6 separate regions of the Homo sapiens genome follow, and all the other regions are linked to region 1. The links come from fine-mapping of genetic effects on gene expression. A gene starts in region 1. Each other region holds a variant in brackets. All regions are shown on one strand. Distances are between the middles of the regions.

Region 1 (5,073 bases):
ACGTGGTGGCACACACCTGTAATCCCTGCTACTCGGGAAGCTGAGGCATGAGAATCGCTTGAACCTGGGAGGCAGAAGGTACAGTGAGCTGCGATCGTGCTACTGTACTCCAGCATCGGCGACAGAGGGAGACTTCGTCTCAAAAAAAAGAACATGAATGCTGAGATGTTAATAATGTTCATCTCTATTCTAGGGAGTGGAATAACGGTAGTTATTTACTTCTTTGTGCTTTCCTGTATTTACCACAGGCAAACATTGCTATTATTTTTGAGACAAGGTCTCACTCTGTTGCCCAGGCTGCAGTGCAGCGGTGTGATCATGGCTCACTGCAGCCTCATCCTCCTGGGCTCAGGTGATCCTCCCACTCAGCCTCCCAGGGTAGTGTGGGTCACTGCACCCAGCCCATTATTTTTATGGTTAGGAAAAAATCATGCTTTTAAAAGCAAACAATGAGATGTGAGGATGATTGTGCTAGAGCAGAGGCGGGCTTATGAGATCACTCTGGGCCTCAGCTCCTCCTTGCTCACTGGTACTCCCTCCCTGACAGCACTGGTCAACCAGGGCACAGGGACTCACCTTCGGGGGTCTCTTTCCCCCAGCCTGTCAGTCAGGACATAGCTGGTCTTCTCACCCTCTTTGGTTAAACCCTAGTAGGGAGGGGAGTGAGAGAGACAAGGCTTGAGGCTTTTGGACAGTTCAGGTAAAGTGTAAGCCATGGGGAGTCAGGCCCCTCCATCTGGTTCCCAGCTCTGGGTCCTCTCTCCCAAGCAGGGCCAAGATTGGCAAATCAGGGACCCTTGGCAGTAGATGCCCCAACTCCCATGGCAGCCAGCACCATGACCGTCAAATAGCCCCTGTTTACCAGTGGCAAACCCATGGTCTTATGGGAAGGGCCCTGGGAAGGGGTTAGGCAGCCTGAGTGTGGATTCTGGTGGCCTCTGCACCCCTAAATAAATACCGGGAAAGAAACTCCGTGAAGTCAGGGGCAGGTTTGCCTCATTCCCTGCTACACCCTAGTGCTTAAGGGTATGGCCCAGAATGGACACCAGGAGATATTTGCTGAGCCAGTGAAGGGAGGAAGGGATGGTCTCTGCCTTCTTGTAGCCAGGAAGAACAGTCTTAACCCCAGATTGAGAGTCAGTCCAATTTGAAATAGAAGCTGTGTGAACCTGAGTGAGTCAACTACACATCTGTTTCTTAATTTGTAAATGGGTATAAAGACCTACTAGATAGGAGTATAAGGACTAAACCTGATAAGGGTGGAGCATGAATAAGACACTTAACAGTGGTTATAGCTGGGGAATGGGATGGGTGATAAGGAGAGATCCATTACTTTATCTAGAACTGTTTGAAATGTTTTCCTATAAGTTTGTATTATACACAATAAAAACTAAGGACCAATTGCACAGATGCCCAAGTGGCAACTTCCCTAGTCCTGAAATCCTGATACCACCCTGTGGGCAGAGCAACTCAGCTGTGGCTTCTCCAGAGTCCACAGAAGAAGGGCTGTAGTCATTTCAGGGCTGAAATGTGGCCATACCTGGCCCTAGGACAGGGTTCCTCACCTGGACAGGTTCTCCATCACGCCACACCAGACCTTCTCCATCACTTTCCCAGCAAAGGTGAACTTCCTGGCCCACCCATGCCTCTGGGATGGTCAGCTCCACCCGGAACCAGCAGGTCCACCATCTGCAAGAGAGCTGTTGTGATAGGCCTAGAGGTAGAAGTCCTATCCTGATATCCTTCCTTGGATAAAGTGTCGGCAGGGGCTTGAAACTCTCCAAGCATCTGCAGTGTCACAAGGTACTCAGCTTTGAGTCACAAGAAAGGAGCAACAAGGTGAGAAGCAAGATGAGGGAAACAGGCAGAGGCGTCAAAGGTTCGTGATCCCTAGGGTGCCCTTCCTAAGGGATGTCCAGAGGCGGCCACGTGGGAATGAAAACCATCCCCTGAAGACCCAGGGACCAGAGAGCTGTTCCCAGCAGAGGGTGCTGCTCCCAGCAGAGGGTGCTGCTCGATCCCACGTAGTTGTCTACGGCAGAGGGCAGACAACGAAGGTGTGGCTGGGAGCTGGGTTGGGACTTCCCCTAGGCCTGTGGCCCCGCCCACCCGCTGGGCGTTACCTACGTGGGTCCGAAGCTGTCGCCGACCTGCGCGGGGCGGAAGTCCCGCTGGACTGCCTCCTGGTAGGGAAGTCTCTCCGGCGTCAGGAAGCTGGAGAGCACAGCCACAGGGCAGCTGGCCCCAAAAAGCCTGCGTGGGACGGGCCGGTGGGCACATGCTGGAGGCCGCCCCGTTTCCGCCTGGGGGCCAGCTGGCCGGTGGGGCCGCACTTTCCCTGGATCCTCCGCCAAGAGGGCTGCCTGGCCGCTCCGCGGCACAGTCCATTCCCTACCCCCTCCTCCCCGGCCCCTGCCCTGCCCGCGGCGGGCACTTTGTCCCGCGGCCCGGGTGGCTGCAGCTTAGGTTTCTCCCCGGAAGGAAAGCTTGAGGCGCACGGTTGCGGTCGGCCGGCTGCGGGGGACCAGGGGCCACACCTGCCGCGGAGGTTACAGTCGGTAAAGTAGAGCGGCGACACGAACTTCTCCACCCGCTCCAGCGTGGTGCGCCAGTGCTTCAAGGCCGGCGCAGCCGCCATCGCCGGGCTCTCGCTCCTCTTTCCGGAAGGCCCCTGGCGCTACCGTTCCGCTCCACGGCAGGAAACCAAAGGTTCCGGCGTCCAGAGGGCGCCTCCCAGTCCCGGGCAGCTTTTCTTGGAACACCGGCGGCTCTCGGAAGCCCAGCTGCTGTCTGAACTTTGAGCCGAGTTGGAAGCTAGAAACTGTTTTTGAGGCTCTCCTATGTTGTCCGAAATAGTGGGCCGCAGGGAAAATCTCAAAATAAAATGGGAAATTTGACGATTAGAACTCTCGAAAGTCTCAAGACAGAGACTTAGGCCATTCGGCAAGACAGGCGGGAGCCTCAGCTGCTGCAGACCCAGCCTCAGAAGCAGCAACCGGGAGACCTCTGGCTCTAGCTGTCGGTGAACACGGAAAGTGGTGTTTGCTTAACGTGGAGCCAGACTACCCGGAATAGGTGTTTTCATACCGGACGGAGATCAGGGTGTTAGTGAGCAGGGTGGTAGAGCTTTACGCCCAAGTTACTACGACTTACTCGATTACACGCTTTACTGAATGTATATTGCTAACTCTTGCACATCACCAGAAACTCTGGAGTTTGAGGTGGCAGAACAGTCATGGCATTGACGATCCCAATGGAAAAATGTATTTCACCATACAGGACTGTAGAGTCCCGGGAAGCCATAATACCAGAAACAGACCTCCAGTTTCATTCTCATCCCTAGTACTCCACTGACAGCTTTATTTTTTTTCTCCTGGGGTTGCCAAGAGTCTTTGTCTATAAAATCATTAGGAACAAAAAAAAATACACAAGATTAGCCCTGATATTTTAATGGAAATACTGACCAAGTTTACAACATTTCAAATGCAGATCACACGGAAAGGTGACTAAGTACAGAATAACAAATGTGATTTAAAACAAAGATAACCTGCTGCTGCATATAATACAGGTTGGGTTTAGAGCTTGGAGCTCAGATGTCAGACAGCAGGAGGAATAAAAATGCTACTTGTGAAAACCCAGGCTGTAGGTAAAACTTACTCTTTTGTTGGTTGCACTGGTGGGTTGGGACTTTCTCCTGAACTGGCCTTGAAATCCTATCCTGACCTGCAGGCAAGTGCTCTGGACAAAACACTGCAGGGGCAGCAACAGCTGGGGCTGACCCTGATCACACCCCACCAATTTCCCCTATGGTTCCAGGTCAACATGACCTTTCTTGAGGGAACACGGGGATAGGTGAATTATTTGAGAAAACCTCAAGATCTTTCCCCTAAATCAGTACACATGACCACCGCCAAGTCAGACACTGCCCCAGCTTTGCCCTAAAATCTCATCCCACAAAGCTCTTTTTGGCACCCTACACTTTGGCTCACAGTCTCTTCTCCCCAGTACAAAAAAAGCCTAAAATCAGGCCAGGGTGGCTCACACCTGTAATCTCAGCACTTTGCGAGGCCGAGGTGGGAGGACAGCTTGAGGCCAGGAGTTTGAGACCAACCTGGGCAGCATAGCAAGACCCTGTCTCTACAAAAAGTTAAAAAATTAGCTGGGCGTGGTGGCATGCAGCTACTCAGGAGGCCGAGGTGGGAGGACTGCTTGAGCCTGGGAGGTCAAGCCTGCAGTGAGCTATGATCGTGGCACTGCACTCCAGTGTGGGTCATAAAGCGAGACACTGTCTTTAAACAATAAAAGCCTAAAATCAGAGAGGTCTACCATGTGTTTTGAAAATCCAGGAGCCAAAAAATTTTGTTTTTCTTTTTGGTGGTGGTGGTGATTTTTAACTAAAAAGCAAACATAAAACACACAGAACATTGCTGGTTACAACTAAGACTTGCGTAATGGTTGCTGAAGAAAAATCCACCAGAGTACTGGGAGGGGCTCAGTTGGTCTTTGTTCAGAAAGTCCAGGTTAACCACATAGAAAAATCCTAATCATTCATGTTTAAATGTCTGCTAGTTTAAATTTATGTAATTAAAAAAATAGGTATCCCATTTCAAATTCTCTCCCTCCCAACTCCATTTATAAGGTATACCACATGCCTTATGCACACTTTTTTTTCAAACACTGGTTTGGTATTTAAGTTGCTCACCCCCATCCATCACCAATGTGAATAAGAAAAAATATATAGAAATACAAACTACATAGCTTGACAACTTACCCAAATATAAAATATTTTCAGATTATTTGAACAAGGGAAAAAAACACGTACTAAAAGACTTAAGTATTCTAAGATTTTGGAATATTTTGATTTGGGACAAGTAACAAGTATTTTAAGCAAAATCCTGTTTCTACCCTGGATAAGGAACTGAAGTCAAAATCCCTGCTTCACAGTATTTTCTGGTGAGGACAAGGGACGTGGGTTGAGAGTTTATTCCTTAAGTAAGAACCAAGCTTTATTTATTTACAAAAAAAAAAAAAAAAAAGTTGGGGGCAAAGGGGAAGACAAGTTTTACACAAAAG
Region 2 (5,073 bases), 40 kb after region 1:
AAGACCAGCCTGGCCAACATGGTGAAACCCTGTCTCTACTAAAAATGAAAAAATTAGCTGGGCACGGTAGTAGGCGCCTGTAGTCCCAGCTGTTTGGGAGGCTAAGGCTGGAGAATCGCTTGAGCCAGGGAGGCGGAGGTTGCAGTGAGCCAAGATTGCGCCATTGCACTCCAAGCTGGGCAACAGAGTGAGGCTCTGTCTCAAAAATAAAAATAAAAATAAAAATAAATCAGCTTTTAAATTCAGAATCCAAAGTCTGCATGTCACATTTGGCTTATATATTTCTTAATTCTTAATTTATAATAGCTTCCCTTCCATACCCTTTTCTTGACATTTATTGGTTGTGATCTAGACTTCCACACTTGTCTAAGAGCACCAACCGCCCAAGCAGACTTTGGTAATGATTCACATCAGAGCTAAGGACTCAACACTCTTGCAGGACTCTCCTGCAAAAAGCTCACATAGGCACAGCAGACAGAAAGGGATCAGGAGATACTAATCACGGAGATGTTAAATCATCTGCCCTTCTGCAAAACCCAAGAGGCAGAAAATAGAGTCAATCACCACAGATCAATCCAGGTTGATTCCTACCAGTGAGAAGCCCAACAGGTGCCAGCTACCCTGATGAAAGTTTCCTGCTAATCATCAAGTTGACTCCGAGGAGCAAATCACACTTAAGTTTATGTGGCCAAACTAAGGCACCACACAACATCATTTATGCCAATAATCTCAACTCTCGTTGCTCATTAGAATCAGCTGGGTAGCTTTGAAAACATGCAAGTAAATTAGAATTCCCCTGAATGCTATGTATGTGTGTACTACAAATAACTATCACAGCAATAAGATTACAAGTCATCGGCCAGGCGCGGTGGCTCACGCCTGTAATCCCAGCACTTTGGGAGGCCGAGGCGGGCGGATCACGAGGTCAGGAGATCGAGACCATCCTGGCTAACACGGTGAAACCCCGTCTCTACTAAAAATACAAAAAATTAGCCGGGCGAGGTGGTGGGCGCCTGTAGTCCTAGCTACTCGGGAGGCTGAGGCAGGAGAATGGCGTGAACCCCAGGAGGCGGAGCCTGCAGTGAGCCGAGATTGCGCCACTGCACTCCAGCCTGGGCGACAGCGAGACTCCGTCTCAAAAAAAAAAAGATTACAAGTCATCTTAAATCCTCAAAAATTGGTACAGGCACTGGTACTGCCTGCCACACAGACCTGGATATCTACAATGGGAGCTCCAAACATCTTTCAAGAGAAACATAATACATTTTCTAAAAATCTGTCTTCTGCCCCAAACTGCTTCATAAAACCAAAGCAAACAATGCTACCATTTTTCTAGCTATGCTAATAGTACTAGCAGACTCAAAGGACTCACAACTGGGAAACTATGTTAAAAAACAGAAAGTCCTAATTAGCCTGACACCTTTAAAACGAAACCTTCCAGGGGGATAAGATGATTTTCTTTTGGCATTAACAGGCACTATCAAATCTAACTCATCCATTACTCACCTTATCAAAAAATAACGATTCTGTTCCACCACCATGTTTGCTGGCATCTGCCATAGAAGAATCCTTCAGATTGAGCAGTTTGGGTTTCTTCTGCAAAAGAAAGATACAAACATGTGAGATTCAACGAGTGGTTTTCTCTGAATTTTATTTTTGTCTGTATTCAATGGTTTCATCACTGAAACCACTGCTGATTAATAATTTGAAACAAATGAGAGAACTCTAACCAACTCACTCCATACCCTCTAAGATTTCAACTCATATTTTCTATTTCAGTTTGCCTATTAAGTTTCTTTCTACAACAGAGGTTCAAAGATCATTCTACCCCCAAAATATTTTCTCCAGAAATGATCATGACATTACTGTGACAAACTTTTAGAATATCCTTACTTTTTCTAGGGGCCCAAAGTAACTTCATGTAGAATCTAATGCCACTGTTTTGTTCTCCTACCAGCTGAGGGAGAAAAGGCTGTTTGTAAAAAGAGCTCACAAATTGACAGAAATCAATCTTTAACCCTGAATAATATTTCAATTAAAAATTTACTTAAAAAGCATAATTTGCTGGGCATGGTGACTCATGCCTGTAATCCCAGCACTTTGGGAGGCCAAGGTGGGCAGATCATGAGGTCAAGAGATTGAGACCATCCTGGCCAACATGGTGAAACCCCGTCTCTACTAAAAATACAAAAAAATTAGCTGGGCGTGGTAGTGTGCGCCTATGGTCCCAGCTACTCAGGAGGCTGAGACAGAAGAATCGCTTGAACCCAGGAGGTGGAGGCTGCAGTGAGCCGAGATCAC[G/A]CCACTGCACTCCAGCCTGGGCAACAGAGTGAGACTCCATCTCAAAAAAAAAAAAAAAAAAAAAAAAAAAAAGGCACGCCAGCAATATCCACTCAGACTAATTTAATATTGTTCTTCTAAAGGGAACCAACAGGCCATGATATAATCCTGTCAGGCAAGAAGTTACTTTTAAAATCCACCACTTACTCTCTATGAAGAAATGCACAAACTTTGTGAGAAGTAGCACATTTACCTTGGCTATCTCAGAGTATACTTTCTTAAGAGCCGCAGCCTCTGCTTACACTGCCTATGGAGAAAGTAGGCGGAGAATTTTAAGCCCCCACTATATTCTTGCCACCTGTAGGTAATCAAGAGTGGGCGGACGTAAATCCAAGCATGGAGTGTATCTACTGAGCTGATTCTTGCTACCCATATAACTAATTCTCTTTATTGAAATGAAGAAATAGAAACCATTATTATGTTCAACTTGATTTCAAAAGATTTCAAAAGAAGAAACCATGACAAACACTAATGAAAAGGATACTTCAAAAGTGTCAGTAACACCTAGTACGTCAGACCTTGTAGTCAGTCAATCACTATTCATCAGCCACCTCTTACTATTAGAAATTCCCAAACTTTTGTCATTATTTAATTCTGCAGACATATCTGTCTCTTCTATATTACATACTGCTTTGAAATTCACTGAAGAATTAAACATTCAATACATACAACTAGCCCTCTCCCTATCATAGCTGTGTTACATCAAAGAAGGGAGCAAGCTAAGTTTTCTGCAGGCAGACCATCAGTGTTAACTATAACAAAAAACATCATGTAATGGATTACTAAGAGGAGTTTAAGACTTCCCTCTGCTACAGCCCAAAGGTCCTGCCTTGGAGATTAAGATGATACACATAAGATCTGGTAACCCAACAAAGAACTTTGAGCAGGACAGGGTTCTAGACCAGAGATCTCAAAAAACACATGCACTCTACTCACAAGAGGACCTCAGAGACCACTTATTTCTGAAATAATTCTCAAGCTCAAGAATGTTCTTTCTTAACACAAGGCAGATTTAAAGCATCAAAGAAGAAGGGGCCAGGCGCGGTGGCTCACGCCTGTAATTCCAGCACTTTGGGAGGCCGAGGTGGGTGGATCACCTGAGGTCAGGAGTTCAAGACCAGCCTGGCCAACATGGCGAAACCCCATCTCTACTAAAAATGCAAAAATTAGCTGGGCGTGGTGGCACACGCCTGTAGTCCCAGTTACTCAGGAGGCTGCGGCAGGATAATTGCTTGAACCCGGGAGGCAGAGGTTGTAGTGAGCTGAGATCACACCACTGCACTCCAGCCTGGGCGACAGAGCAAGACTCCATCTCAAAAAAAAAAGAAGGGAAAAAAATTTCAAGTATTGGAAATTCTTAGTAGCAACCAAAACATTAAAGAAATGACAGCTCATTGCAAAGGAGAGATAATAAAGAACTCAGAAAAGTACAGTAATCCAAGCAATCAATGTTATTCTAATACTCTTTTGCAAAGCCAGATAAACTCTGCACTGAGTTTCTGTGACACAATACTAACTTCCTCCAAATATCTAGGACCCAACCGTTAACACACTTAAGAACACATGACTGCCGGGCACAGGTAATCCCAGCACTTTGGGAGGCCGAGGCGGGCAGATCATGAGGTCAGGAGATCGAGACCATCCTGGCTAACACGGTGAAACCCCGTCTCCACTAAAAAAAAAAAAAAATCAGCCCGGTATGGTGGCATGCGCCTGTAGTCCCAGCTACTCGGGAGGGCGAGACAGGAGAATCGCTTGAACCCGGGAGGCAGAGGTTGCAGTGAGCCGAGATCGTGCCACTGCACTCCAGCTTGGGCGACAGAGCGAGACTCGGTCTCAAAAAAACAAAAAAAAACAACAACAACAAAACACATGACCACCTCTAGAGTACCTCTCCATTAGAAATACTTGTGAGTGTCAAAATGAGCAGCTGCTGCCCATTCTCACCTTAACTGGAGGGGTGGTTCCTGTAGGATGTCTGCGGATCTGGCAGCCATTCTGGCTGGGCCTCTGCGGCTTGTTGTTCAGTTGGGGCTTCTTGACAGTGCCTCCATGATCATTTCTCACAGAATCAACCTTCTCAGCAGTTGTTTTGCTTAAAAGCTGATTAAGACACATGAATGAGATTAATGCTCTTATCAAAGCAAACAAATATCATCTAGGAAAAGTCCCCTTCTGAGCACAGTTTTCCAACTCATCTAAGATAATAATAGTAAATAGTGTAATTCTTATTAAAAAAACATACCACGGAGCTGTTGGCATCTGGTAGGAATTGTCCAAACTCTGACAACAAATCTTCCTGGTTTTTAAAGAGACGAGCAACCTGGGCATACACCTCCTGCTCTGTCAATGCTGGAGTGTAGTTTCCTCCAGCTTCCTTGGCATTTCTCTGCTCTTTCTGAGGAATTGCAAATGAAAAGAGATCATTTGGGCTACTGTTTTGAGTCACTCATCTTTGCACGCTTTCTGGAATCACTGTTATCTATTTAGGCTGCATGTAAGAAGAAAGTCTATGTTCTTAGCACCCGTTCTGACCACAGACTTTCAAGTTGAGAAAAAAAAAAAGTTGAAGATGGTGGATGACAATTCCTTTCAAAACTAGGGTAGTAAATATTTTTGAGACGGAGTTTCACTCTTGTTGCTCAGGCTGGAGTGCACTTGTCTCGGCCTCCCAAAGTACTGGGATTACAGGCGTGAGACACCATGCCCGGCCTAGGGCAATAAATATTAATG
Region 3 (5,073 bases), 150 kb after region 1:
TAAATTTGTCTCTTATGACCCCATGGAGGAAGAGAACAAACCCATAAATGGCCTTTGGAAAGCATTCCTAAAAAGTAGATTAAGGCTGACATAGTGGTTCATGACTGTAGTCTCAGTACTTTGGGAGGCTAAGGATGGTGGATAGCTTAAGCCCAGGAATTTGAGACCAGGCTGGGCAACATGACAATACCTCATCATGTAGTGACCTATAGTCTCAGCTACTTGGGAGGCTCAGGTGGGAGGGTCACTTGAGCCCAGGAGGTCGAGGCTACAGGGAGGTCATGCCACTGCACTCCAGCCTGGGAGACAGCGTGAGATCTTGTCTTAAGAAAAAGTAAGACTGGGCGCAGTGGCTCACGCCTGTAATCCTAGCACTTTGGGAGGCCAAGGCAGCTGGATCGCTTGAACCCAGGAGTTCAAGACCAGTCTGGGCAACATGGCAAGACCCTGACTCTATTTAAAAAAAAAAAAAAAAAGAGGGAAAAGAAAGAAAAAAAAGTAGATTAACAGGTATTAATAGTAAGCCATGGCTGGGTGTGGTGGCTCACACCTATAATCCCAGCACTTTGGGAGGCTGAAGCAGGTGGATCACCTGAGGTCAGCAGTTTGAGACCAGCCTGGCCAATATGGTGAAGCCCCATTTCTACTAAAAATACAAAATTAGCTGGGTATGGTGGCACATGCCTGTAATCCCAACTACTTGGGAGGCTGAGGCAGGAGAATTGCCTGAGCCCAAGAGGCAGAGGTTGCAGTGAATCGAGATTGCACCACTGCACTCCAGCCTGGGCAACAGAGCGAGACTCCATCTCAGGGGAAAAAAAAAAAAAAAAAAGTAAGCCTATTCCCAGACCAAACTGAGGAACATTTGAAGATACAGAAAGTATTCCTCAGTCCAATTTCCCAGATTTATAAAGATTTCTCAAAGATGTACTCTTCCACCAAGCCAGATCCGTACTTATATGTGATCTGCAGACCCAAATGGTCATTAGGATAAATTATTTGATTGGACTACTCACAGATGACAGCAAGAGTTTTCACATCTATTTAGAATTGAGAAAATGTTTGGCACAAAACTCATTCCTGAAATCAGGAGTCTCAAAGTTATTGTTTTTTGTTTTGAGACAGAGTTTCACTCTTGTCACCCAGGCTGGAGTGCAACGGCGGGATCTCGGCTCACTGCAACCTCCGCCGCCCGGGTTCAAGCAATTCTTCTGCCTCAGCCTCCCGAGTAGCTAGGACTACAGGTGCCCACCACCACACTTGGCTAATGTATTTTTAGTAGAGACGGGGTTTCGCCATGTTGGCCAGGCTGGTCTCGAACTCCTGACCTCAGGTGATCCACCCACGTCGGCCTCCCAAAGTGCTGGGATTACAGGCGTGAGCCACTATGCCCAGCCTCAAAGTTATTTTGTATCTTACTATTTTTGCACCAGCACCTCCTGGGAACCTCCATATCTTCATCCCTTTAACAAATTCCAAGGCAGAAGCACCCGCCCATGAGCTAACATTTCAAAAATGTCTAATTCTGAGGTACATGAAAGTTTCTCCAGCAGACTTAGTTTCAACTGGCACCTAATGTGTTACATTAGTGTTAAATCTTTACTCCTTTTTCTTATTTATTTCTTTACTTATTTTTTAATTTTTAGTAGAGATGGGGTTTCATTATGTTGCCCAGGCTGGTCTCAAACTCCTGACCTCAAGTGATCTGCCCCCCTCGGCCTCCCAAAGTGCTGGGATTACAGGTGTGAGTCACTGCGCCCTGCCCTTGACTCCTTTTTCACAACCCCAGAGAGACTATGATCCACAAAGGTCCAAGATGCTGTTAAAATGTGTGGCACAGGACAGGTCCAGTGACTCACACCTGTAATCTCAGCACTTTGGGAGACTGAGATGTGAAGACTGCTTGAGGCCAGAAGTTCGAGACCAGCCTGGTCAACAGAGTGAAACTCCGCCTCTACAAAAAAATTTTAAAATTGGACGGGTTTATTAGTACGTGCCTGTGGTCCCAGCTCCTTGGGAGACAGAGGCAGGAGGATCATTTGAGCCCAGGAGTTGAGGCTGCTGTGAGTTATGATGATGCAACTGCACTTCAGCCCGAGCAAAAGTGAGACCCTGTCTCTTAAAT[A/G]AAAAGAAACAAAGAAAATGTGTGGCACAATTATTGAATAGGCTATCCAGATCTAGATACTTTCTATTTCTCCATGAGCTCCTCAAGGGTCAAATTCAAATTATGGGCTTTCCCCTCATGACTCCAGGTTGTGGCAGGGGACTAAAACAAAAACAAGTCAGTGAGGGGGCAAAGAGAATTTAAAAAAAAAGAAGCTTGGATGCATAATGAATGATCCAGGTTCTATATTCCCAGATCAAAGTGCTCATCCTGTGAAGGCACATAAAACATGAATGCAGTAAGATTTTCACACTTTAGGGTATAGAATAGATAGATAGATAGATAGATAGATAGATAGATAGATAGATAGATGTGTGTGTGTTTATATATGTGTGTATATATATACATATACTTTTTTTTTTTTGAGACAGAGTTCGCTTTTGTTGCCCAGGCTGAAGTGCAATAGTGCGATCTCTGCTCACTGCAACCTCCGCCCAAGTTCAAGTGATTCTCCTGCCTCAGCCTCTCGAGTAGCTAGGATTACAGGCACCCACCACCACGCCTGGCTAATTTTTTGTATTTTTACTAGAGACGGGGTTTCACCATGTTGGCCAGGCTGGTCTCAAACTCCCGACCTCAGGAGATCCACCCCCTTGGACTCCCAAAGTGCTGGGACTACACGCGTGAGCCACCAGAATATATATATTTTTAAGACAGCATTTTACTCTGTTGCCCATGCTGTAGTGCAGTGGCACAATCATGGCGCACTGTAGCCTCGACCTCCCAGGGCTCAGATGATCCTCCCAGGGCTCAGGTGATCCTCCCAGGGCTCAGGTGATCCTCCCAGTTCAGCCTTCCGTGAGTGTCTGGGACTACAGGCAAATACCACCATGCCTGGCTGCCTAATTTTTAAACTTTTTGTAGAGACGAGGCCTTGCTATGTTGCCCAGGCTGGTCTCGAACTTCTGGGCTCAAGCGATCCTCTCACCTGGCCTCCCAAAGTGTTGGGATTACAGGCATGAGCCACTGCACCCAGTTTAAGATTTACAATGGGCCGGGCACGGTGGCTCACGCCTGTAATCCCAACACTTTGGGAGGCTGAGGTGGGTGGATCACGAGCTCAGGTGATCGAGACCATCCTGGCTAACAAGGTGAAACCCCATCTCTACTAAAAATACAAAAAAAAAAAAAAAAAACGGGCGTGGTGGCAGGCGCCTGTAGTCCCAGCTACTCGGGAGGCTGAGGCAGGAGAATGGCACGAACCCGGGAGTCGGAGCTTGCAGCGAGCTGAGATAGCGCCACTGCACTCCAGCCTGGGGGACAGACCGAGACTCCGTCTCAAAGGAAAAAAAAAATAAAAAAAATATTTTTTTAATTCTTGAGCTACATGTTACAGAAAACACCAAGAAGTTTAAAATACAGTCCCTGACATTGGTTTTAAAAAAACGGAGAAGCCAGATGCAATGGCTTATGCTTGTAATCCCAGCATTTTGGGAGGCCGAGATGGGAGGATTGCTTAAGTCCAGGAGTTCAAGACTGCAGTGAGCTACAATCATGCTACTGCACTCCAGCCTGGGTGACAAACCAAGCCCTAGTCTCAAAAAACAAAAAAGAAAGAAACTGAGGATAGGAGATCCATGAGGGGCTACCAATGAAACAAGACTGTTACAGATCACTTTGAAGAAGACGGATGATGGATATGTGGATGTTCACGATACCATTCTCTCTCAACCTACAGAGATTCGGATGTTAAAAAGAAAGTTTCCTGCCCTCAAGAAGCGAGTGGATTCATCATGTTGCCCAGGGCTGGTCTCAAACTCCCGGGCTCAGACAATCTGCCCATCTCAGCCAACCAAAGTGCTAGGATTACAGGCATGAATCAATGCGCCTGGCCTCAATATAGCACTTCTAATCCGGAGGACCAGCCAAAGATGTCGAGAGCAGTAAGAAACTGTAAATTACAAGCACCAGGGAAAAAGGAATAGCAGAACAACAGCATGGGAGGACAGAAATAACTCTGCCCAAGAGTGAAGAAACCAGGATCTTAGAACCAGCTGGACTAACATATGATGACTGTAAAAAACTTCTTGGGGCTTGAGTTTAATTGTCAATTGAATTGTAACAATACCAATTACCTTAGCAGGAAGAGAGTGATGACCTGAGCTGGTTCTTTATGCTTATGCACCTCTTTTTATTAAGGATGGTTTTTGCTTAACTTTATACTTCTGGGCTTCTCCCTGAATGTTTTTTTGTTGTTGTTGTTTGTTTTGTGTGGGCTTTTTTGTGGGGTTTTTTTTGAGACAGGTCTTGCTGTGTCACCCAGGCTGGAATGCAGTGGCGTGATCATGGCTCACTACAGCTTCACCATTCTGGGCTCAAGTGATCCTCCCACCTCAGCAACCTCCCCCACCTCCCCCAAGAAGCTGGGACTAAAGGTGCACGCTACCACACCCAGCTAATTTTTTGTATTTTTTATCAGAGACAGGGTTTCACCATGTTGTCCAGGCTGGTCTCAACTCCTGGCTTCAAGCAATCCACCTGCTTCAGCCTCCCAAAGTGCTGGGATTACAGGTGTGAGCCACTGCACCCAGCCCTCCCCTGAATGTTGAGTCTCAAAATCCTCTGAACTAAACGGCATTATTCCTGTTATGCAGACAAAGAAACTGAGGCCTTAGAGGTTCTGATATGAGCAAAAAGAACCAGCACAGGTCATCTCCCCCTCATTCTTTTCCAATAAGTAGTTTTCCATACACTGAAGATTGCCGATAATTGACTTTCTCAGCTTCTGTTTTCCTGACATAGAGCCAAGGTGGTAAAGAGAACGCCCACCATCTTGATAGTGCCTGCAAACATGCCGAGTTCTAAAGGACATGGATTGTTTTCTATTCATAGCATTGCCCAGGGCACATCCTAGGAGAATGGCGAAGGCACTGCTGAATTTAATCAAGTAAAAAACTGTCACTTTCCTA
Region 4 (5,073 bases), 67 kb after region 1:
ATTTTGGCCCTGTTTTCAAACAGGGGCAAAAGGAGGGGATCAGCCTACATTAGTGATTTCCAAATGCTGGTTTATGAACCAGTCTATAAGGAAAAAGAAGATTGTAGTGAGCTTTTCATACATTAAGTATTACAGTACTATGGTTTATTCTGATATCATACTCTATCTTTTGGCTGTTAAAATATCGTTTCTTTTATTAAGTGATTGGGATTTCATATGGTACTTAACTTCATCCACCTCCAGAGTTTGCTTTCCATACCACCTCTACAACACTACAGAGGCTGAACTTTCTCTGAACCATACTTTATTCCTTTAACAATTACCACTCATAGGCCGGGCGTGGTGGCTCACGAGATCAGGAGATCGAGACCATCCTGGCTAACATGGTGAAACCCCGTCTCTACTAAAAATACAAAAAATTAGCCAGGCGTAGTGGCGGGCACCTGTAGTCCTAGCTACTCGGGAGGCTGAGGCAGGAGAATGGCGTGGACCGGGAGGCAGAGCTTGCAGTGAGCCGAGATCATGCCACTGCACTCCAGCCTGGGCGACAGAGCAAGACTCCATCTCAAAAACAACAACAACAAACAAACAAACAAACAATTACCACTCAAAGTTCTATTCCTAACTCTCTCTCAAATAAATTGCTTCCGCTCTAATCATACCTCCTGGTTTCAGGCCCTGATCATCCTTCACAACAACCTTATAAGCAAGGTGTTCTCTAATTTATGAATGAGGAAACTGAAAAACAAAGATTAAGTAAACTGCCCAAGGTTGCACAGCTAGTAAGAGGCAAAGCTGTGATATAAATCCAGGAAATCTGTCTCCAGAGCCTGGCTCTTAACTACTTCACTACCTTACCTCTCACAGAAGAGAAGAAGTGAAGGAAGAATCCCTTTACTTATTTAAGGCACACATGCAGGGAGCAAGTTCAGCTTTTTTTAACCTTTCACACACTTAGCTAACTCATCCTTCTTCAGCCTAAACCTAATAAAGCAGAAATGCTTTAGTAGCATTCATTCATTAAAAGCAAATGTTCAGTGAGTAGATATGAAGTTGGTAGATGATTTCAGCCCTTGCCCTCTAAAACCATATATAGCCTCACTAGTAATAAAAAACGTGTAAAGTAGGCCGGGCGCGGTGGCTCATGCCTGTAATCCCAGCGCTTTGGGAGGCCGAGGCAGGCGGATCACTTGAGGTCAGGAGTTCAAGACCAGACCGGCCAACATGGTGAAACCCTCCCTCTACTAAAAATACAAAAATTAGCCGGGTGTGGTTGTGGGCGCCTGTAATCCCAGCTACTCAGGAGGCTGAGGCACGAGAATCACTTGAACCTGGGAGGTGGAGGTTGCAGTGAGCCGAAATCGCGCCACTGCACTCCAGCCTGGGCAATAGAGTGGAACTGTCTCAAAAAAAAAAAAAATAAAAGGTCAGGCGCCGTGGCTCACACTTGCAATCCTAACACTTTGGTTCGCCGAGGCGAGTGGATCACCTGACGTCGGGAGTTTGAGACCAGCCTGATCAACATGGAGAAACTCTGTCTCTACTAAAAACACAAAATTAGCCGGGCATGGTGGTGCATGCCTGTAATCCCAGCTACTCGAGAGGCTGAGGCAGGAAAATCGCTTGAACCTGGGAGGCAGAGGCTGCAGTGAGCCGAGATCGCGCCACTGCACTCCAGCCTGGGCAACAAGAGCAAAACTCCGCCTCAAGAAAAAAAAAAGTAATTTACTCCAAAGCAATTTAAAAAAAAAAAAGATGACAGTGTGGGTAAGGATACAGGGAAACACTGATGGAGGAGGCTTTAATTGGTACAGCCTATTTAGCTGGCAACTTGTAGGTATTTATTAAAATTTTAAATGTGCATACCCATCCCATGCATATTATGGAAAACTATGTAAGAATCAGATCAAAGTTTATCCACGAGTATAAGAAATGAACTCTAAAACATACTAGATTTTGGAATACTGAAACTATCAATTCCACTTTCAGGCCTGTATCCTACACATCTGCTGAGTATATTTATTGCAGCAAAATATGAAAATCTAAATATCTATCAGCTAAATAAATGTGATCATGCATATTATGGAAAACTATGTAGGAATCAGAAAGATCAGGGTTTATCCACAAGTACAAAGAATGAACTCTAAGACATATTAAGTGAAAACAGCAGGCTAGGCCGGATGCAGTGGCTTACGCTTATAATCCCAGCACTTTGGGAGGCCGAGGCGGGTGGATCACCTGAGTTTGGGAGTTCGAGACCAACCTGACCAACATGGAGAAACCCTGTCTCTACTAAAAACACAAATATTAGCTGGGCGTGGTGGCGCATGCCTGTAATCCCAGTTACTCAGGAGGCTGAGGCAGGAGAATCACTCGAACCCAGGAGGTAGAGGTTGAGGTGAGCCAAGATGGCGCCACTGCACTCCAGCCTGGGCAACAAGAGTGAAACTACGTCTCAAAAAAAAAAAAAAAAAGAAGAAGAAAACAGTAAGCTATAGAATACATACAGCATGATCTCATGTATGTATATATACACATACAAAATGTACTAAAGATTTGTACATTTCATTGTATGTAAAATTTGCATTGAAAGAAAAATGTGCCTGGGCACAGTGATTCATGCCTGTAATCCCAACACTTTGGGAAGCTGAGGCTCAAGGATGGCTTGAGCCCAGGAGCTGGAGACCAGCCTGGGCAACAATGGGATGACCCTGTCTCTACAAAATAAAGAAACAATTAGCTGGAAGTGGTGGCGCACAACTATGGTACTAGCTACTCCAGTGACTGAAGTGGAAGGATCTCTTGACCTCAGAAGTTGAGGCTGCAAGGTTGTAGTGAGCAGTGATAACGTCACTGCACTCCGGCCTGGGCAACAGAGTGAGACTCTGTCT[C/CA]AAAAAAAAAACAAAAAAAACAAAAAAGAAAAAGACAAAGAAAAAACATGCTAGCCACGCACAATGGCTCACAAAGTGCCTGTAATCCCAGCACTTTGGGAGGCCGAGGCAGGCGGACCTCTTGAGCACAGGAGTTCAAGACCAGCCTGGGCAACATGGCGAGACTCCATCTCTACAAAAAATACAAAATTAGCCATGCATGGTGGCATGTACCTGTAATCCCAGCTATTTAGGAGGCTGACGTGGGAGGATCATGTGAGTCCAGGAGACAGAGGCTGAGGTGAGCTGAGATCTCGCTACTGCACTCGAGCCTGGACAAAAAAGAAAAATGCTATAAACAATATTAAACTCTAGATAATGATAAACATGCTCAAGTGCTTAGATGAAGTATACTAATGTCTGCAATTTATTTTGAAATACATCAAAAAATCAGATTCATTGATGGAGCGATGGATAGATGGACAGGCATATGTTAAACCTAGTAGTAGAAAAATGATAATGGTAAAATCTAGGTAGTGTGTATATGGGTGTTCATTATATTTACTAAAATTCTATCAACTTTGTTGTGTATTTGGAAATTTTCTTGATAAAGTCTTGGAAAAAAACATCCACAGGTTCTGAGGATTAGGAAAAAAAAAAACAGGAAGAAAAGCCAACAATACAAACCAGCTCTTGAGTGGAAAAAATAAGTACTATAAATTGGGAAAGGGATACAGACAGGTACACTTGGGAAGACTCTATAAAGGTAAATATTCAGCTACATCTTGAAAATTAGAGATGAATTAGAACACAGGGGTATAGAGCATGAAATTAAAATAGTAAGTTTAGACTTGCAGGCAATAGTTATTTACAATCTTTGCCAAGTCATTCATCCCACAAATAATTAGCAAGTGCTTAAGACATGCCTGGCCCTGTGCGGAGGGTTAGAAGTCCAGCACTGAGCCAGAGATTTCCTCCCCGACAACAGCCAAGTCTTCCATGTATGACTGCTATCAGCTGATGTCCTCCTCGCAACAATCCTGTCAGATAGGCAGTCCCAGAACCCTTTTTTTTTTTTTGCAATAGCATACCATTATGTCCACCAGGCTGGAGTGCAGCAGGGCTATCACGGCTCACCGCATCCCCAACCTCCTGGGCTCAAGTAATCCTCCCACCTCAGCCTCCCAAGTAGCTGGGACATAGGCAGCGCCACCATATCTAACTTTTGTATTTTTTGTAGAGACAGGGTCTCGATATGCTGCCCAGGCTGGTCTCCAACTCCTGGCCTCAAACAATCCTCCTGTCTTGGCCTCCCAAAGTGCTGAGATTATAGGCATGAGCCACTGCGCCCAGCCAGACCCCTCTTTTTTTGAGGGAAACTGATACTCAAATTAAATGACTTATTCAAGGTCACATACCTGACTAAAAGAGCAAGAGGTTAAATTCTTCCTCCTTGGAATATGAACAATCTAAAGTAGAAACATTGGACAAGACTGTAAAACCACGCTTGCAGAGGGGTACAGTGTAATTCTAGAATATAAAGAAAGCCAAACGATGGAACCACAAAGTCAGCCACAAAAGTACTGTCAAGTCCCGCTTCAGCCAACATGGTTGATCTCCATCTGTTTCAAATTTGGAGTTTATAGTACTATCAGAACTCTAGTCTAGGAAGACATTATAAAAAGAAAAAAAAAGCACTTTGACGTATAGAAACTATGGAGAGAAGACTAAATAATGGCAGCAGAACATTTAAAGGTCACCTGGTGGGCACAGTGGCTTGCACCTGTAATTCCAGCACTCTGGGTGACTGAGGAGGAAGGATCATTTGAGGCCAGGAGGTGGAGGTTAGATTAAGCAAGATTGCACCACTGCACTCCAGCCTGAGCGACAGAGGAAGATCCCAAATACACACACACAAAAAAAACACCTACAGGTCCTAAAAGTCACCTGGCCATGTGTTATAATAAAACTGGGCGCGGTGGTTCACACCTGTAATCCTAGCACTGTGGGAGGCTGAGGCAGGCGGATCACTTGAGGTCAGGAGTTCAAAACCAGCCTGGCCAACATGGCGAAACTCTGTCTTTACTAAAGCACGAAAAACAAATTAGCCGGGTGTGGTTGTGGGTGCCTGTAATCCCAGCTACTCAGGAAGCTGAGACACAAGAATCGCTTGAACCCAGGGTGCGGAGGGTGCAGTGAGCTG
Region 5 (5,073 bases), 510 kb before region 1:
CGGAGTAACCAGGACTACACACATGAGCCACCAGGCCTGGCTGATTTTTAAAGTTTTTTTGTAGAGATGGGGTCTTGCTTTGTTGCCCAGGCTGGTTTTGAAGTCCTAAGCTCAAGTGGTCCTCCCACCCTGGGCTCCCAAAGCACTAGGATTACAAATGTGAGCCACCTTGCCCTGTCCAGATCCAATTGTTAAATACAATGCTAATATTAGACATAGCCACAGAGTGACCCCCTCAGTTTACAGATGTAGAAACTGATATTCACCATGATCCTAGGACCCAAAATGGGAGCTCTCTCCTTACTCTGAATATTTATAGAGCTGAGGGTCAGCATTGAATATGTTCTCTGGTTTTATCACAGATACTTCCTCTTATCTCTTATCTTCCCACCTGAGCCACCAGTTCATAGAGGGTATGAATGTCTGACTGCCTCCAGGCATACAGCCAGAACTCACTGTGTCTGGACGGGCCTCATACTACAGCCTCCACCCCTTCCAACCTCCTCTGCGACAGACTGTGGCTATGTTCTTCCTGCTGAACACCACCTCTGCCCTGATGGCTCCTGCAACTTGGACAAAGTGACAAGGTGAAGTTCAGGAGGCTCTGTGTTGCTGAAGAATTGGCCTTGAGGTTATTTCATGCCTGAATGACCAGTGGTTTACTACCAGAATCATCTGGCTTCCTGCAAGGAAGATTTGGGGCTTGGTATCTGTTCCCCTCTCAGACTCAGCAGACACCTAGCCACCGCTGAAGTCACTGAAATCGGATCTACCATCCACAGAAGTGGCTCCTCGAGTCTGAGTCACCAGAGGACAGAGGAAGAGGGGCCACTCTGGTAGCAGTTTCAGGTAATGGCAAACAGACATCTGGCCAAGGTGCACATGTTTAATAGGTGATCTCCAGGCCCACAAAGAGATGCCATTTCCTTTATGAATGGCAGACAGAAGGGGACTGTGATGGGGATCATAGGGTGACTGCCCTGTCCACTCTGATCCCTCCCTTTTTCCTAAAATCTTAAAGACATGGCCTTGGACTCCTCACCGGGCTCCTCATAAACAAATCTGATCTCCATGATTAAGTTAGAAGCTCCCTGCAGCCATGTGCATCTGTGTCTGGTTCATATTCTAGTTCCTTGGTGCTTGGTGAAGGGCCTATGGCAGCACAGCAGCTCAGCGGTTTGAGAAGACACGCAGCACGCTGTAGGGCCTCCCTCTTTTTAGAAAGCACTGCCCAAGTGCCAGGGCATAGCAAACAGGAGGCACCTGCATCACAGCAGTAGCCCAAGGGCCTGGAAGCACGTTGCCTAGGAAGAGCAACCTAAAACGCTGAGACAAGTGGATATTTTCCCATCTAAGAAAACCTAGGCTCTTTCTGAAAGATGTGCGTGGCTTCAAGACAAGCTGAGCCCTGGCAAGAAAGGGAGGGAGGAGGAGGGACTGGGGAAGGAAGCTGACATTTACTTAGTGTCTACGGTGTGCCAAACTCACCACACAATGATGCTACTGTGAAATTCTAGTCACCCCAGAACTAGCCACTGTGTCGAGTTGTCAGAAAAGAGGGTTTTACTGGCCTTCCTTGACCTGGTTCTTCAAAAGACTTATGACCCCCTAATCCACTATTTATAATGACTTTACTGCTCTCCTGGTACCTAGGGTGGTACTAGTTATACTCCATACTTGAGAGAGCTGAGAGAGTCACTCCAATCAGCTTCTCTGTTCTGTGGCTCAGCTCGGGACCCTGGCTGAGAAAAGCTACAATACAGCTCCTCATTTAACCCTCACAACAGCCTTATGAGGAAGGAATATTTATATTTTGCAGCTGGAAAAGCTCAAGCTCAGAGAGGGGAAGTAGCTTGTCTTAAGATCTCAGGGGTAGTGGCTCAGCCAGATTTTCAATCCAAGTCTGTCTCCAGGGACACAAGATGGTAAAGCTGAGTGGGGCAAAGCATCTCGAAGCCTGGTACGGAGCCTGACAAATTGAAGGCGCTCAGT[G/A]AATATGTGGCAGGATGAATGAGCCCCACTCCAGGAGGACACTGACAAGGGCTTCTGCTTGTTTCCTTGCTTCCTTCTTTCCTTCAAAGAGCTGGTTCTTTTTTTTTTTTTTTTTTTTTTTTGAGACGGAGTCTTGCTCTGTTACCCAGGCTGGAGTGCAGTGGCGCGATCTCAGCTCACTGCAAGCTCTCCCGGGTTCACACCATTCTCCTGCCTCAGCCTCCCCAGTAGCTGGGACTACAGGCACCTGCCACCACGCCCGGCTACTTTTTTTGTATTTTTAGTAGAGATAGGTTTCACTGTGTTAGCCAGGATGGTCTTGATTTCCTGACCTTGTGATCCGCCCACCTCAGCCTCCGAAAGTGGTGGGATTCAGGCGTGAGCCACCATGCCCGGTCCTAACTGGCTTTTAAATGGGTCAAGTAGGATGGTGAGGGCTAAGTTTCACCTACAAGGAGGAATAACCTAAAACTCCCCTGCAGTGCCACTCAGAGTGGCTATTGCCCTTTACTGAATTTGTAACAAATAAAAGGCTCTTAACCTCAGTTCTTTTCATTCAGCAACCAGCTACAGTGTGAGGAACATACCACAATGCATAAGACACAGCTCTCACCCTTCTGGAGTCCACAATCTGGTATCTGAGACAAGTGGGCACCCCCTGAAGGGGTGCTGGGGACCACGGCAAGGTGCAGAGCAAAAAACAGGAAGAAGGGGAGACACCTCGGTGGGCTTCAAGAAAGGCCAGGTTGTAGAAGGAAGACAGACAGCAAAGGCCCAGATCAGTAAGGCCCCCCACCACTGCAAGGCAGGGGGGCACTTCCACATAGCTGGGGGGTAAAGGCAGTGAGGGAAGAGAGGCAGGCAGAGTTAGGCTGCAGCTCTCCCAGGAACGGCCATGAAAACCACACTTTTTTTTTTTTTTTTTTGAGATGGAGTCTCGCTCTGTTGCCCAGGCTGGAGTGCAGTGGCGCAATCTCTGCTCACTACAATCTCCACCTCCCAGGTTGAAGCGATTCTCGTGCCTCAGCCTCCTGAGTAGCTAGGATTACAGGCACATACCACCACGCCCGGCTAATTGAAAACCACACTTGTCACTGGTTTGGAAACCTCATACCATGCGTTTCACAGGTGCTGGCTGTCTGAGCTCTCTGTGACTTTTCCTTGCCTTCCCTTCCTGTATTCCACCCAGGCTCCCAGTGTGAGGTTTATTTCAGGCTCCAAATAAACACATTAAATAAATATCTTATCTCACGGACTAAAAAAAATTCAGGGCCAGCCGGGCACGGTGGCTCAAGCTTATAATCCAGCACTTTGGGAGGCTGAGGTGAGAGGGTTGCTTAAATCCAGTTTGAGATCAGCCTGGGCAACATAGCGAGACCCTGTCTCTTTTTTTTCATAGTAAAAATAAAAAATAAGTTTAGGCCTGGCGCGGTGGCTCAGGCCTGTAATCCCTGCACTTTGGGAGGCCAAGGCAGGCGGATCACCTGAGAACAGGAGTTTCAGACCAGCCAATATGGCCAACATGGTAAAACCCCATGTCTATTAAAAATACAAAAATTGGCCGGGTCTGGTGGCTCACACCTGTAATCCCAGCACTTTGGGAGGCCAAGGCAGGAGGATCACCTGAGACCAGGAGTTCTAGACCAGCCAACATGGCCAACATGGTGAAACCCCATCTCTATTAAAAATACAAAAATTGGCCAGGCGTGATGGCTCACGCCTGTAATCCCAGCACTTTGGGAAGCTGAGGCAGGTGGGTCACCTGAGGTCAGGAGTTTGAGACCAGCCTGGCCAAGATGGCAAAACCCCATATCTACTAAAAATACAAAATTAGCTGGGCGTGGTGGCAGGCGCCTGTAATCCCAGCTACTTGGAAGGCTGAGGCAGGAGAATCGCTTGAACTGGGAGGCGGAGGTTGCAGTGAGCCAAGATTGTGCCATTGCCCTCCAGCCTGGGATACAGAGGAAGACTCCATTTAAAAAAAAAAAAAAAAAAAAAGCCAGGCGTGGTGGTGCATGCCTGTAGTCCCAGCTACTTGGGAAGCTGAGGCAGGAGAATCACTTGAACCCAGGAGGAGGCTGCAGTAAGCCAAGATCACTGCGCAGCACTGCACTGCAGCCTGGGCAGCAGAGCAAGACTCTGTCTCAAAAAAATAAACAATAATAATAATAATAAATAAATTCTGGCCAGGCACGGTGGCTCATGCCTGTAATCCCAGCACTTTGGGAGGCTGAGGCGGGTAGATCACCTGAGGTCAGGAGTGTAAGACCAGTCTGGCTAACAAGGTGAAACCCCATCTCTCCTAAAAGTACAAAAATTAGCCAGGCATGGTGGCGGGTGCCTGTAATCCCAGCTACTCAGGAGGCTGCAGCAGGAGAATCACTTGAACCCAGGAGGCAGAGGTTGCAGTGAGCCAAGATCGTGCCACTGCACTCCAGCCTGGGCAACAGAGCGAGACTCAACTCAGGGAAAAATAAATAAATAAATAAATTTTAAAACATTAAAAATTCAGGGTCATGCTGAGAGGCAGAGAGTCAGCAACACTCTGGAACCTCTGTGAAGTCCTATTGGCTTTGGAGATGAGGCTGAGTGTCACAGAGCACGAAAAAGCAATCACCCCCAGAGTGGCTAGCTGGGTCCCAGTGCACAAAGAGCCACAATTGACCTTGGTGCTCTCTGACCTGATACCTGAGAATCTGTCCTAAGAAAATATCACAAAAACATGTAAAAATCTGTACCTGCAATGATATTCATAGGACCAGGACTTACAATAGGAGAAAAAAGCACGAAACAAACATCCAATGACAGAGACCACAGGTATGTTTTGGTACGCATCCCCTTGAAGGCCCACAACGCCACTAAGCATCACAGCTATGAAGATGGTGCAGCAATACAGAACAGGCTTTCTGGTCGGGCATGGTGGCTCACGCCTATAATCGCAGCACTTTGGGAGGCCAAGGTGGGCAGATCACGAGGTCAGGAGATCGAGACCATCCTGGCTAACACGGTGAAACCCTGTCTCTACTAAAAATACAAAACCAAATTAGCCGGGCGTGGTGGCGGGCGCCTGTAGTCCCAGCT
Region 6 (5,073 bases), 20 kb after region 1:
ACTTTTTTGTATTTTCAGAAGAGACGGGGTTTTGCCATGTTGCCCAGTCTGATCTCAAACTTCTGAGCTCAAGTGATCCACCCGCCTTGGCCTCCCAAACTGCTGGGATTACAGGCGTGAGCCACCGCCTCTACTTTATACTTTCTTGTTGAAGTAGACTGTATTACTGATTCCCCACCCATACTCTCTTTTTGGATATCTGGCCCCTCCTCGAGTCTTCAGAAAAGACAGCACTACAAATCCAGAGACAGCTACGGAACTCCCACCCCCACTGCTAAGCAGATCAGATTCTCTATCTTGCTAATTGGAGATGACAGAGAGGGTGTTCAATAGATTTTTTGAGGAGGAGCATCTGTATGGAAAGGTCTAGTAACACTGGGACCAGGGGTACTGGGAGGGCAAGCCAAAGCCTCAGAGGCTGGAGGAGCCTGGAGCACATGCCGTATGTTCATCTGCAGAGCAAAGCACAAGCATGGAGCAGAAGTCCAGAGTGAAGGCATGCAGGAGAGAAAAATCACCTCCCAGCCCAATCCTTCCATGGTGTGGTCCTATTTTGAGTTCTGTACTTGGATGTCTGTGAGGTTGCCTATTGTATTCTTAATACAAATCCCTCTTAAGCCAGCCTACAATAGGTAAGATAAATGTAATGGCTTCACTTGGCTGGAATGCAGTGGTGCAATCACGGCTCACTGCAGCCTCAACTTCCTGGGTTCAGATGATCCTCCCACCTTAGCCTCCTGAGTAGCTGGGACTACAGGCATGTGCCACCATGCCCAGCTAATTTTTTGTATTTTTAATACAAATAGTGTTTCCCCATGTTGCCCAGGCTGGTCTCCAACTCCTGGACTCAATATATCTGCCCGCCTTGGACTCCCAAAGTGCTGGTATTAGAGGCATGAGCCACCATGACCAGCCTTGACTTTGAAATATATGTTGTACATTCAGTCAGCAGTGGAATCTGAGGGAACACCAAATATGAGGAGAATGAGAGAAGAGATACCTCCAGTTAAAGGAGTTGAGAAGCTTGAAAATGTTTTAAAAAGTCACTGTAGGCTGGGCACAGTGGCTCATGCCCGTAATCGCAGCGCTTTGGGAGGCTGAAGTAGGTGAATTGCTTGAGCCCATAAGTTTGAGGCCAGCCTGGACAACATGGCAAAACTCCATCTCTACAAAAAATACAATAAATTAGCCGGTGTGGTGGCCCCTTTGGTCCCAGCTACTTGGGAGGCTGAGGTAGGAGGTCAAGGCTACAGTGAGCTGATCACACCACTGCACTCCAGCCTGGGCAATAGAGTGAGACCCTGGGTTGGAAAAAAAAAAAAAAAAAAAGTCACTGTTTTGGGGTTTTCTGGATGAAACCTGTTTCCATTAAAAAAAAAAAAAAAAAGCGGGGGGTGGGTGGAGATAGTATTTATTACTGATTCAAAATCATAACCAGATACAGTAAATAATTGTAACTATTGTTTCGAAAACCAACCTCAGAATTATTAAAAGTTAGTTTTATTGGATTTTTTTTTTAAGCTGTGCTGGTGGTATGAAAGACTTCGTTCCTAGCTGAAGCAGCAGCAAGCCTGTAATCAGCAACATAAGCACAGGGTAACTGGAGTCTGTATTTTATATAAATTTCAGGGAAGTTAAGGAAGATTAGTCTGAAAAAGTATGACTATGGGTGACTATGTATCCATCTAATGATTTCTGCCAGTTACCATCCAGACCTCTTATGGGAAGGCCTAACAACTTCTTCAACTTATTGGAAACAACTATCTGACAACTTTCCCCCAGATGTTAAGGTTCATTTATATGAAGGGCTCTTCCTCAATCCTGTGTAGATACTGTGGGAGGAGTACAGAGGCATGCACCCTTCCAAAACCAAGGCAAAAGCATGGGTACTTTGCAAAGAATTCAATATTTTAGCCCAAGAGAACATTAAGCAACAAGCTCTTTCCTTCTACAGTGGCAGTGTGGATTCTAGAATTAGAAATTGCTTTTTACAAGTTTTCACTTAAGTACTTCACCGCCTTTCTGCTGAGCTATTCTATGGAAGAGGGCTGTAGGTAGCCACGGTACCCAGGTGGAACAGCATGATCCTAAAGCCCTACTTCCACAAGGAATCGCAGTGGCCCATGGCCACGTGGTTCAACCAGCCAGCCCAGAAGATCTGCAGATGCAAGCAAAAGTATACCACATTGACCTGCACCCTGCATCTGGACCCATCTGACCCATGGTAAGCTGCCCCACAGTGAGGTACCACACCAAAGTACAAGCTGGCAGGGGCTTCAGCTTAGAAGAGTTAAGGGTGACCAGCATCCACAAGAGGGTGGCATTAGTACACCATGTCCCTGTGGGCCAATGTTCAGCACCTGAAGGAGTTAAGACTCCAAGCTCAACCTCTTCTCCAGGAAGCTCTTAGCCCCCAAGAAGGGAGACAGTTCTGAAAAACTCAAATCAGCCACCCAGCTGACAGGAC[C/G]AATAATGCCCATATAGTACGTCTATAAGAAGGAGAAAGCTGGAATCATCACTAAGAACTTTAAGGTATTTGCCAGTCTTCACACAGCCCACATCAATTTTCAGCTCTTTGGCATATGGGCAAAAAGGGCCAAGGGAGCCACAGAACAGGATGCTGAAAAGGAAAAATGAAGCCCTGCTGGGGACTTGCAGTCAATCAGCAGTAGAGCTGGGTCTCCAGAAAAAGAAAAAAGCAGTTAACCAACAATCTCTCTGGGAGTTCAGAACTCAAGTCCAAGAAGTAGAAATGTGACTATCTGTTACAAGCTATTTTTTATATCATTGTTGTAAAGAACAACATGTTTACAAGTTCCCAGGGTGCCACAGGAAGAACACACAAAACCAACCAGAAACCTAACTTAGAGGGAACCGCAGATGAGTGAGGTGGGCAGAGTATTATAAAAGATGTTATGTGAACCCTTTCTTATAAAAAGAATTTCAAATATTAAACAATGCAAGTACATAAGAGTTACCAACACCTTGACCAGGCGCAGTGGCTCGTGTCTATAATCCCAGCGCTTTAAGAGGCCAAGACAGGAGGATCACTTGAGACCAGAAGTTCAAGACCAGCCTGGGCAAAACAGTGACACCCTGTCTCTATTTAAGGAAAAAAAAAAAAAACTTACCAACACCTATGGAAGACGCAATGTTCCACACTGTGTGCTTACCCATGGCAGACAAGGTAAGAGATAGACAAGTTGTGCAGGAAGCTGGGGTCAGGACCACTGCACTCTACAGGTGGCCAGCAAGAAAGGATATGGGGTAGGCAGGCTCATACACTGCAACTTTGTTAACATGAGAAATCAGGCATCACATTAACCTCCCCTCCTCTCTTCAGAACCCTACGTTCATAAACACTGTTATATGAAAAAGTTGCCTTTCCTTTTCCTTGCGTGGCCCATCTCTAGGTAAGGATTTCTTCCCTTACTCACCCTAGCCTCCTCCATGCCCTCACCTGTCTGACAATGCTCTGGATCAGTTTGTCCATGGTAAAGGCAATGTAGGCATGAATGGTGAACATCTCTCTCAGTGAATCTTCATACTGTGATGAGTCTATGTTGCCATCCAGCAGGCTCCGCACCATGTCCAGGAAAGCTGGGTAATAATCTTCTACATCAACATCCACTGTGGGAGAGATGGGATTGGTGAGGCCTTACCTTGCTAAGAAAAGACTAGGGATAGAGTACAGGGCAAATCCCACAGCTGGCCTAAATGGCATTTGAAAGTATGAACACTAGGTATTCAAAATATACTCACTCATTCCAATGTAAACAGAGATGAATTCCGACAGGTGACTACAATCACCAGCACTATCAGAGTGACTCTGCAACTTTAACAGTGGCTTCTAATATTCTGACTACCATGCTAGAAAGATACTTCTTTATGGTACTGCTGGGCCACTTTCAGAGAGGAAAATATCCTAGGGAAGCCAGTCCTTCAAAGAGCTGTTGGCTCCCCTGCTGAGAGAGGAACCTACTCTCCCAGCCTGCACAAGAGCATTCCTCACATGGGTCACTTGCTCATAAAGCTATTTCAATGAAGCATAAAGTACAGATGAGGAAAGGCAGACACAGCCATACTCCAGCACTGGGAAACCTCTTGGGAACACAAAAATAGGAGTGCAAATTAAATCCTTTATGAATAATGAAGTAATCTGCATTTGTCAAAGTCCTTTTGTTTAAAAATGGATTCGCTACGTTGTATTTCACAAATTGCATTAAATCATCTGTAGTTGCTGCACATGAATCATTTCAATCACTAGCTAGAATAAATCTCATCAGTTGTTAAAGACATTTGGCAACTAGCAGAGGGCACAAGGAGTATTAAAGAGTGCTGCCTTTAGCTTACTAAAGACCCATTTATATAAAGTTCAAAAATAGACAAATCTAATCTCTAGTGTTAGAAATCAACAAAGTGGAAAAAGGACTGGTTATCAGAGTACTGGTTATGTTTCGTTTCTTGAACATAGGTACGTCTAGTCTGTAAAAATTCACTGAGCTGCACAATTCTGATTTGTATACTTTTCTATATATACATGCCGTACCTTATATGTATTTTTTTGTAGAGATGGGGTCTCACTTATTAACCAGGCTGGTCTCAAACTCCTGGCCTCAAGTGATCCTCCCACATCGGCCTCCCAAAGTGCTGGGATTACAGGTGTAAGCCACTGCACCCGGCCTATACATTGCACTTCAACAAAAAGTTGACTAAAATGAAAAAAGTTACAAAACGAACTATTTGTCACTGACTAATTGGTTACTTGCTAGTTGTGTTTGTGCTGGAGAAAAAAGGCTAGGAGCAAAACCAAGTTGTCTCCATTTATCTGAAGTCTGACGAATTCATTAAAAAACAGGCAAAACAGGACAAATACTGTTTAAAAGAGGCAACTGGCTTGAGTTTCATCACAGACTATCACATTCTTTAGCTCCATAGAATAGGTATAGGCTATAGACTCCAAAATATACCACTGCTATGAAAACTGCTTTTATGCCAGAATAAAGTTTTGAGTCCAAACCACAGATTTGTCCAAACAAGCTGTGGTAAGTGTGAGGGTTGGCATTATCAGAC

Which allele goes with the higher level. Alleles are on the strand shown, and positions count from the first base shown. SD is a standard deviation of normalised expression in the study named. Not every link is listed here.
For the expression in cerebellum of the gene that starts at base 2,662 in region 1, G is the low allele of the variant in region 2 and A is the other (moderate effect, 0.50 SD a copy in GTEx).
In carriers of allele A in region 3, the expression in monocytes after R848 of the gene that starts at base 2,662 in region 1 tends to be lower than with G alone (large effect, 1.1 SD a copy in Quach 2016).
For the expression in monocytes of the gene that starts at base 2,662 in region 1, allele C in region 4 goes with a lower level than allele CA (large effect, 1.1 SD a copy in Quach 2016).
For the expression in coronary artery of the gene that starts at base 2,662 in region 1, allele C in region 6 goes with a lower level than allele G (moderate effect, 0.67 SD a copy in GTEx).

Evidence for each region. PIP is the estimated chance that this variant, and not a neighbour inherited with it, causes the effect. A credible set is the group of variants that fine-mapping cannot tell apart.
Region 2: its variant is the best candidate, but not a certain one, in a credible set for the expression of MAN2C1 in cerebellum (GTEx, PIP 0.63).
Region 3: its variant is the best candidate, but not a certain one, in a credible set for the expression of MAN2C1 in monocytes after R848 (Quach 2016, PIP 0.57).
Region 4: its variant is the best candidate, but not a certain one, in a credible set for the expression of MAN2C1 in monocytes (Quach 2016, PIP 0.62).
Region 5: its variant is the best candidate, but not a certain one, in a credible set for the expression of MAN2C1 in whole blood (INTERVAL, PIP 0.55).
Region 6: its variant is the best candidate, but not a certain one, in a credible set for the expression of MAN2C1 in coronary artery (GTEx, PIP 0.56).

The regions. Positions count from the first base shown.
Region 1 is chr15:75,365,946-75,371,018 of GRCh38, forward strand. It overlaps MAN2C1 (mannosidase alpha class 2C member 1), which reads right to left and starts at 2,662. Exons shown (of 26, transcript NM_006715.4): 1 at 2,538-2,662; 2 at 2,128-2,253; 3 at 1,566-1,689; 4 at 577-647. The coding sequence starts at 2,638. SIN3A (SIN3 transcription regulator family member A) reads right to left here. Exons shown (of 21, transcript NM_001145358.2): 21 at 3,434-5,073. RefSeq lists a silencer at 2,329-2,408 and enhancers at 2,435-2,967, 2,539-2,858, 2,543-2,837.
Region 2 is chr15:75,405,549-75,410,621 of GRCh38, forward strand. SIN3A (SIN3 transcription regulator family member A) reads right to left here. Exons shown (of 21, transcript NM_001145358.2): 7 at 4,586-4,738; 8 at 4,288-4,443; 9 at 1,507-1,596. Among named protein-coding and RNA genes, the nearest start is that of MAN2C1, 39 kb to the left of the region's middle. The variant G/A (reference allele first, on the strand shown) is at 2,302.
Region 3 is chr15:75,518,008-75,523,080 of GRCh38, forward strand. All of the region lies in intron 4 of PTPN9 (protein tyrosine phosphatase non-receptor type 9), which reads right to left. Among named protein-coding and RNA genes, the nearest start is that of PTPN9, 59 kb to the right of the region's middle. The variant A/G (reference allele first, on the strand shown) is at 2,126.
Region 4 is chr15:75,433,242-75,438,314 of GRCh38, forward strand. All of the region lies in intron 1 of SIN3A (SIN3 transcription regulator family member A), which reads right to left. Among named protein-coding and RNA genes, the nearest start is that of SIN3A, 16 kb to the right of the region's middle. The variant C/CA (reference allele first, on the strand shown) is at 2,892.
Region 5 is chr15:74,856,717-74,861,789 of GRCh38, forward strand. The region is part of intron 1 of SCAMP2 (secretory carrier membrane protein 2); the gene reads right to left. Among named protein-coding and RNA genes, the nearest start is that of SCAMP2, 14 kb to the right of the region's middle. RefSeq lists enhancers at 487-596, 627-686, 1,037-1,086, 1,317-1,386, 2,765-2,874. The variant G/A (reference allele first, on the strand shown) is at 1,993.
Region 6 is chr15:75,386,192-75,391,264 of GRCh38, forward strand. It overlaps SIN3A (SIN3 transcription regulator family member A), which reads right to left. Exons shown (of 21, transcript NM_001145358.2): 16 at 3,461-3,630. It also overlaps the pseudogene RPL13P4. Among named protein-coding and RNA genes, the nearest start is that of MAN2C1, 20 kb to the left of the region's middle. The variant C/G (reference allele first, on the strand shown) is at 2,468.